2 separate regions of the Homo sapiens genome follow, and region 2 is reported to be linked to region 1. Evidence: microRNA targets listed by miRTarBase, many of them from high-throughput screens and not tested one by one. Region 1 holds a microRNA gene; the other region holds the end of a gene's coding sequence.

Region 1 (4,000 bases):
CATAAGCCCACAGTGTCTGTGAGCAGGGACGAGGGCAGCTCCTGGGAGGTGAGTGTCGGGGGGCTCCCACCTGCCCAGCTCTGGAGGTCTCTGCTGGTGAAGCATCCCCAAGTCCTGCCTATCCAATACGAGCGCCCCTCAAGCAGCTAAGGGGTATTTGGTGATCAAAGAAATTTGAGAAACTCTGGAGAGACGACTGTTTTCTCCACATGCTGTCAAATACCTAATGAAGGCAAATACGAAACCCAGTGACAACGGGAGTCCCCCGCTGGCAGCGAGGCCTGGCTCAGAGCCCCACGGAAGCCGAGCCCTGCTGCTACACTGGGAAGGCCCCACAGCCTCGGCCCTGGTCTCAGTAGCCTTTCTGGGTCCCAGGGCTAGCCAAGATGAACTGCTGCCAATGGCTGAGAAATGTGGCTGCTCTCTCCTGGTTCTCAGTGAAGGACAGGAAGGAGCTACAGTAGCCATGAATGAGGGTTTCTTCCTAATGTTCTCCAAAATGCCCAGAAAAAACTAACACATCAATGTTTATTTCCCTCCACAGAGAGTCCGTGACTCACGGTAAATATGCAGAAAGGATAAAAACCATTTTCACATGTTACGCGGATCAAGACCAAATACTCAAACCTGGTAAGGGAAACAAGTGACACACTGTCGAGAAGGAATTTTCACTGAGGATACTGTCTCAACCGTCCCTCTAAGTTCCTTGGAGGTGAGTTAATTACCAATCAGTCGATTGACAAATGCCCCCCATCTTGCGCAAGGTATCTTTTCACCAAGCTAAGCTGCCCTCAACAGGCAGGGAGTTTTACTGCTGTCTCTTCATACTCACCAGAAATAATACACTTTGCTCCTCACAACAGGCCCGTCAGCAGCCTCAGAGAACCATGCCAAGCAGGGTTTCGGCAGAAGGTGGCTACTGCCTCCAGACCGGGCAGCCCCAGCCTGCAGCAGCAAAGGGACCTCACCAAAGGTTCTGGAGGTCCCGTGACCTGCCTTCCCTCAAGCCAAACAGCTGAGGGGGGATGTGAAACCCCAGCTGCCTCTTACCTTTGCCTATGACGAGGCCACACTTATCGGCTGGCACCGTGTATGTTATCTCCTGGACGCCACCAGGGGCTCCCACGCTCCAGTCGCCACGGCCACGACCTCTTCCTCTGGCTGCTGCCAGGCCTCCAAAGCCGTCTCTTTCCTGGAAAGATCACAGGGCTGTAGCGACCTCTGCCACTGCCACAGCACCACTGCTCCTCTCTTTTCCAGGGAGGAGGTTAAGTGACAGGATGTAATCAATGCCACCCATCAGAACCTAGCACCTTTCCACACTTCCCATTCTGAAGGGCTCTTTCAAGCCAGAATTAACACCGATCACAGGTGTATCTGGGGAGGACCTGTGCAGACGAACACACGTGGTTACATAAACAGCTCAAATGTATCCAACAGAAATAGGCAGACACAAACTCCAAGGCTGAAGCCCAGCGGCCTTTCTCCCTGGAGCTTTCCTCACTGGGCCCCGATCTACAGGCATCAAGAACTGCTTTCTCCCTTGCAGCTGAGGCCCCTCTTTCCTGCGGCGGACACATACTGGGCCTATGGGAAGTCAGATATGCACAGCCTGCTGACCCTCCCCAACCAGGCACTGCTATGAGTCACAACACCTGGCACTCCAGTCAGCAAGAAGGATAAACGGATTTTACTCAGTTTTAGAAAACTTCTTGGCTGTTGTGCCCCCAAGCAGCAGCAGCAGTAACAGGTTCAAGAGTGACCATTCAGGGATACTTCAGAAGGGAGGAACAGAGGGAACCTGCCAAGGCCTCCTCCCCATGTGGGGCTGGAGAAGTCTCTGAGGCATTCTCCCACTGTTCACCCAGCAGAGAGAAAAACCTAAATCTAACAGCGGACAGAGGAAGAGCCCTTTCATTGAGACAGCAGCAAGTCTCATTCCAGCCGCTGTCCGCGGAGTCATTTTGGAGCTGCAGTATTTAAACTCTCTTAAATGTGGAGGGTGAACCTGGTCAAGCTAAGAGCTATTTCATGGAAGGGAGAAGCTGCACAGACTTTTCAACACATGAAGAAATGTTGGGCAAAACCTGCTCATGTTGATTAAGAGTAAAGTGAACGTTTACCCAGAATCTAAACCAGCAGAAAGCTGAGACAATTGGAGTGCTTTTCCCCCGCACTCTGCTCTTATGAGACAACTGCCAAGTAAACAAGGCAATTTTAGAATGGATGTTCACACACGCACAGGAGCGCACAGTCAACTTTCTGGGTATGCCACAGATCTCGAAGAAAAGGTTTTCTCCCAAACATCTCGCAGCCTCTGCAGTGCAAGGTTCATAAACTTTTTTTGAGACAGAGTTTTGCTCTTGTTGCCCAGGCGGGAATGCAATGGCAGGATCCTGGCTCACTGCAACCTCCGCTTCCTGGGTTTAAGCAATTCTCCTGCCTCAGCCTCCTGAGTAGCTGAAACTATAGGCATGCGCCACCACGCCCGGCTAATTTTGTATTTTTAGTAGGGACGGGTCTCACCATGTTGGTCTTGAACTCCTGACCTCAGGTGATCCACCTGCCTTGGCATCCCAAAGTGCTAGGATTACAGGCGTGAGCCACCACGTCCAGCTAATTTTGTATTTTCAGCAGAGACAGGGTTTCACCATGTTGGTCAGGCTGGTCTCGAACTCCTGACCTCAGGTGATCCGCTTGCCTCGGCCTCCCAAAATGCTGGGTACAAGAGTGAGCCACCGTGCCTGGCCAAGGTTCATAAACTCTTGCTACAAAAAAAGGATGTTAGAGATCATTTAGAGCAGGGGTGTTCAATCTTTTGGCTTCCCTGGGCCACACTGGAAGAACTGTCTTGGGCCACCCATAAAATACACTAACATTAATGATAGCTGATGAGCTTAAAAACACACACACACACACACACACACACACACACACACACACACAAAATCTTGTAACATTTTAAGAAAGTTTATGAATTTGTGTTGGGCTGCATTCAATGCTGTTCCTGGGCTGCGTGCAGCCCACAGGCTGAACGAGCTTGATTTAGTGGCCGTTTTATAAACTTGTCTAATCTTAAGAATTGCCTGGGTCTCTAGTGAAGACCCAAGACCCTCCCTTGGAAATGCTGATTCAGTAGATCTGGGGTGGGGGCCTACACATTTGTAATTTGAGTAAGAACCACCAGATGGCTCTTAGGGGATCACATAGAGAGCACTGCCTGGTGCAAAGCACCCTGAGTCTGCTGCTGGGAACACCAGACCCAGAGGTTCAAAGGCAGCTCCAAGGTCACATGACTGATGGCAGAGCTGGGACTATAATTTCCAATCTCTTGCTTTATTCTTCCGTTCTGGTCATTCTCAAATGTATCCTCAGTCCTACCATCAGTTATAGGGGTTCCTAGCACTGTCACACAGGCTGGCTCACAGTCCAAAGATGTGCATGAAATCAAGTGCATGAAGGCAGCTTTAGGACTTTGGAGGACCCTGAAGTGTCTTCTACCACTAAGACTGGATTTCACTAACACAGATTAACATTAAATACACTTGATTATTTGAAACTTGGCGACCAATCTCCATGGTATTTCCCCACATGGTTTAAATAGCCAGAAACTTACTGTGTAAAGGCAATCTAGATGGTGAGGTAAATAAAGGCAGAATAATTAATGAGCAGAAAAAAATACCAAGAAGGCAGGAAAGAGGCTGATGTAGAGAAACTGCTGGTTTCCCATAATGTGACTTGAGACGCCTCAGGGTGACAGCTCTATGGTGCTGCACCGAGAGCCCCGGGTAGCACTTTCCACTTCTGCAGCCCAAACACTCACACTCTGCAGAGCTGGACCCACCTGGGCTGTAAGAATCAGCTCGCTGATGATATGCGCTGCATGCTGACACCGATCCGGAGGGCCCATGACCTGGGCAGCTCTTTCTGGACTAATCCCATCATCTGAGGAGCCAGGTGAGAGACAGGATTAGAAAAAAGCCCAACGTTAGAAGGAAAC
Region 2 (4,000 bases), not on the chromosome of region 1:
TACCTGCCCATGGCTTCACAGGTCCAGCCAGCCCAGCAAGCAGAAGTGCTGGTGTCTTTAACCCAGGTTTCTTAAAGACTGGCTTCAATAGAACCAACTGTAGTGACTTGGGGCAGAGGAAGGGGAGGATGAAGGTCTTCTAGTGCATCTCTGCCCTCTCCGTGTTGGCAAGGTTGGCATGAATGGGCCATTATTCAACTGGGGGTGGGATGTCTCCATTTCTGGACTGTGCTCAAATTCACACCTTGTATGACATGTGGGCAGAGGAGCTGGCCTGGAGAGGCCTCTAATTCTGCCTCTACGCTTTTGCTGGGTCTGAGGACATGGGAGGGAGGAGCCATAAAATGCTGGAGAACAATTTTAAAAAACACTTATGAAAAAATGCTGGACACTTGACTCACTGCCAGAACAAAGAAGAGCCAATTCAACATCCCAACTTTACGGGCACGTAAGATTCACAAGCTGAACCAAGAGATTTAGGAAGAAAAAAAAAAACATGGTAATTATAAGGGGTCTGTGAATAAGTTAAACTAAAAGCTGCTTTCACAATCTACAAATTAGGCCTCCAAATCAAAATCATTTATATTAACCAAAAGGTTATCTAATTTTGCCCATATTGGTGTCAAATCTCATCCCCACTCCCTGCCAAAAAAGAGCAACCTAGTTCAGCTGTCGGATTTTTATATAACACTCTCTTTATGTGAGCTAGACTCCAGAGTCCTCACACTTCACAGAAATTCTTTCTTAAAACTGGCACTGCAGCCTTTCATTTACAATATCCCTTTTTAAGTGCAAAGTCGAGGGCTGTGAAAAGAACCACGGTGGGGGGTCTGGGTTACTCAGGTCTTATCCAGTGAAAAATTAGTTCTCTGAATCTTTGCAAAACATCTCCTTCACTGGTGCAATCTAAGAAAGGGAAATGGGAAACTTGTTTACATGATGAAAAATATAATTAAGAGATTGACTCTTTATGGCTTATGGCCGCTCTGACAGACTCGTATTTCTCAAAACTTACATTCAGAAGACACTGTCTGCCACTATTTGAAATCTTTAGAGCTAATCATAAGTTAATGACTAGTCTAAGAGGCCACTTGGTGGGGAAAACAAATCCACTGATATTCTGGTCTTAATCCCTGAACAGAAAATGTGCACACATCCATTAACTATTTGGAACCAATCTGGTGCTATACAACTCTTCTGTGTCCTCTTGACCCCATTTTGTCCTCCTAAAGGGACAACTGTTAGTTCCTTTAACCCACTCAAGCAAGGAGTGGAGGGCAGAGGTTTATCTAAAAGAGCAGTGATGTTGGTTCTTGGAGCCCCCTTAAAAGGGCCATCTGAGCTCTCTGCCTAACGTCCCATTGTCTACATAGATTCCGTTTTGGAAGGATGGTTTCCCAGAGAAAGAGTCCTGCTGTTTGGAGGTCGAGAGAGAGTGACGTCAAGCAAGCGTAGTAAGGGAGAAAATAAAATCCTCAAAGCACTAAGGACAGGGGCTAGAAGTTTCCTTTATCTTCTCCCTCCTCATTTAGAAGAGCACGTTTCCTACTCTACGTCTGGGAGCCTTGAAAACCCAGTCTGGTTCAGTTGCAGCAGGTACATGGGTTGGCTCATTCTCTCACTTCTGCCCCTAAATTTGAAACCTTTCCTTCCTCATTGCCCAAATGCTACTTGAGTAAATCTTATCTTTTTGCCTTCTTTGGGCCCTATAGGCTGCCTATGCCTGATAATGACCTGACAGTTTAAAAGAGAGGGATGGGTCAGTGGAGGCCCATGGTTACCAGACACCAGCCAGGCCCAACAGGATCTGGGCTGCAGACAGTGGAGCAGAGAGAAGCAGAAGCAGAACCTACTAGCAACCCTCCTCCTGCACAGCTCAGACAGTCTCCGCCCTGGCTAATGGGAGGGACAACAAGAACCCTCCAGACAACAGGGCTGCCAGGACTACGGGGGCCCGATCCAGCTTCCACTCACAGTGAGAAGATGAACTTGGCCGCTTTCCAGGCTGGAACCGTCTCCAGCATAGCAGAGAGAGGGGAATCACTCACAGGGAGCCCCAAATGGGCCTAGACAGACAAGGCAGGGACCGACTTATGAGGTATGACGACAAATGTTAATAACATCAAATCCTGTACCTGATATGGAATGGAAGCCAGGGTGTGGGCTTAATCCCTCTAAGTACAGGCTCCAATAACAATGCAGATGACGTGTGTGGGGGTGGGTGGTGGGGGGAGAGAGAGAAGGAGAGACAGAGAGAGAGAGGGAGAGAGAGAAGCCAAAACCAAAGGCATTTCAGCTGCTAATAAAAATAAAATACAAACTCTATGCACATTTCCTACACAAAATCTTTCCCAAGCTCGGAAAAAACACTTGAGGGTTTTCTACATTACACAATAAAAAGGCAATTTCCACTTCTTATTTATATGAAAGAGGAAAGATTTTTTTAAACTACAAAAGTTACTTTTAACCATAAAAAAAAAACAAAAAAACTAAAAGTAGGTTGGGGATTAGGTTGTATCTCTTTGGGCGAGCTGCAAAGTAGCCAAACCTGACTACCAAAGGTAAGAATGTGGATACACAAATGTCACCTACCCCACCCTGCTTTGTTGAGGTAGGGGACGAGGAGGACAAAGTGGAAGTGTGGAGGGAGGAGGGGGCCAGGCAGGTGTGGAAAGCCAGCAAGGTTGTCTGAAATGTCTGTTGTCAGAACAGGGCTTCCCCTTCTCTGTCATGAAAACAGGATAGAAAAAGCTTGTGGCCAGGGAGCCCGGGGCCTGAGTGAGGCATTGTGTCATCTCTCGCTCTGAGCTCATCCTAGAGGCAGACACATACATGCTCAAAGGAACTTCTTTTTCAATGGTAATTATTCCAGTTAAAAGAAAAAACAAAGGAAAGGAAACAAAACATTGTCTGGAAAGACACGGGATCCCAGAGCCTAGGGTGCCCTCCTAGCTCTGAAGGCTCGCAGAAAACTTGGCTAGCTTGAAAGGAGGCATCGATCTCTTCAGTGTGGTTGCTAGCAGGAAGCCTCGGCAAGCTAATAAATACTATTTACAACTGGGGAGGAGAAGCTGGGGAGGCAGAACTATGGATGTGTGGGGAACCAGGTTGTGGGAGGTCCTAAAAGCGACAAGATGGGGCAGGTTTGCCTGGAGTAGAAAAGCCTGATCCCCTCAGGCATTGCACTTGCGGCCTGAGAATATGAACGAGAGCCCTCGCCTGCCAGTGCTGCTGCAGGAGACGAGACGATCCAGCGAGGGCTCCCAGGGGGCAGAGTGGGCGGAGGGCTGCTGTCGGGGGTGTTCACACCAGAGACCCCAGTGCGAGCAACGGAGGACACGGGTCAGTGCTTTGCCAAATACCAACAGGCATTATGGCATTTTTGTGGCCAGAGTCTGGGGTCTTGACTGAACAAGAGCCATCTCGTCTCCAAAGCGGGGGGTTACACCTCACAGGTGCACATTAGGCAATATCTTTTTGGCACTATTGGTGGAAACAAGCCTGCTTGTCCCACCTCCAACCCCTAAAATAATTTCCTATGGCAGTAAGAGAAAGGAAGGGAGGGATGCAGGCTCCCTTCTGCACAGGAGGGGCATGGACCAGGGGGAGATGCTCTCTCACTGCAGGGAAGTCCCAGGCTGGTCTCCAATCTGAAGCCACTAATGCTTGCCCATGTCTCCATGAAGATCCAGTGGCAAAGAGGAAAAGCTGATGACAAAGGTGGTTTGGGGATGTAAAAGTAGAGTTAAGGGAAAGGGAGGGGGTGCAGGCAGCCTCTTTAGAAAGTGGTGTTCACTCTTCTGTCGAGTTCTACAACTTTTAGTGTTTCATTCCCCTCCAGTTTGGCGCTGACCCTGTGAAGGCATTAAAAGGAAAACGAAGTATTAGTCACCAGCTGTTAGCTACAATTCTCATGCTTTGTAGCGTGATGCAATCATTCAGGGGTTGCAACTTGGTGAGACGGCCTGGGCATGTTTCTTGTCCTTTTCTCTCCTAGTAG

What was found. The annotated mature microRNA hsa-miR-6856-5p reads AAGAGAGGAGCAGUGGUGCUGUGG and lies in region 1 at 1,231-1,254, opposite strand. An mRNA with a match to its seed (bases 2 to 7 or 8) in the 3' UTR can be bound and repressed. Matches are read on the target gene's strand: a 7mer-m8 pairs with bases 2 to 8, a 7mer-A1 pairs with bases 2 to 7 and ends in A, and an 8mer does both.
Region 2: the mRNA of CREB3L2 is a reported target of hsa-miR-6856-5p. Seed matches in the 3' UTR shown: 7mer-m8 at 2,257-2,263, 7mer-m8 at 2,030-2,036 and 7mer-m8 at 1,748-1,754.

What each region holds. Positions count from the first base shown.
Region 1 is chr9:130,623,556-130,627,555 of GRCh38, reverse strand. It overlaps MIR6856 (microRNA 6856), which reads right to left and starts at 1,259; the gene lies at 1,193-1,259. It overlaps FUBP3 (far upstream element binding protein 3), which reads right to left. Exons shown (of 19, transcript NM_003934.2): 11 at 3,845-3,945; 12 at 1,051-1,192.
Region 2 is chr7:137,876,698-137,880,697 of GRCh38, forward strand. CREB3L2 (cAMP responsive element binding protein 3 like 2) reads right to left here. Exons shown (of 12, transcript NM_194071.4): 12 at 1-3,854. The coding sequence ends at 3,779. Among named protein-coding and RNA genes, the nearest start is that of DGKI, 32 kb to the left of the region's middle. RefSeq lists enhancers at 1,936-2,667, 2,668-3,401 and a silencer at 2,626-2,920.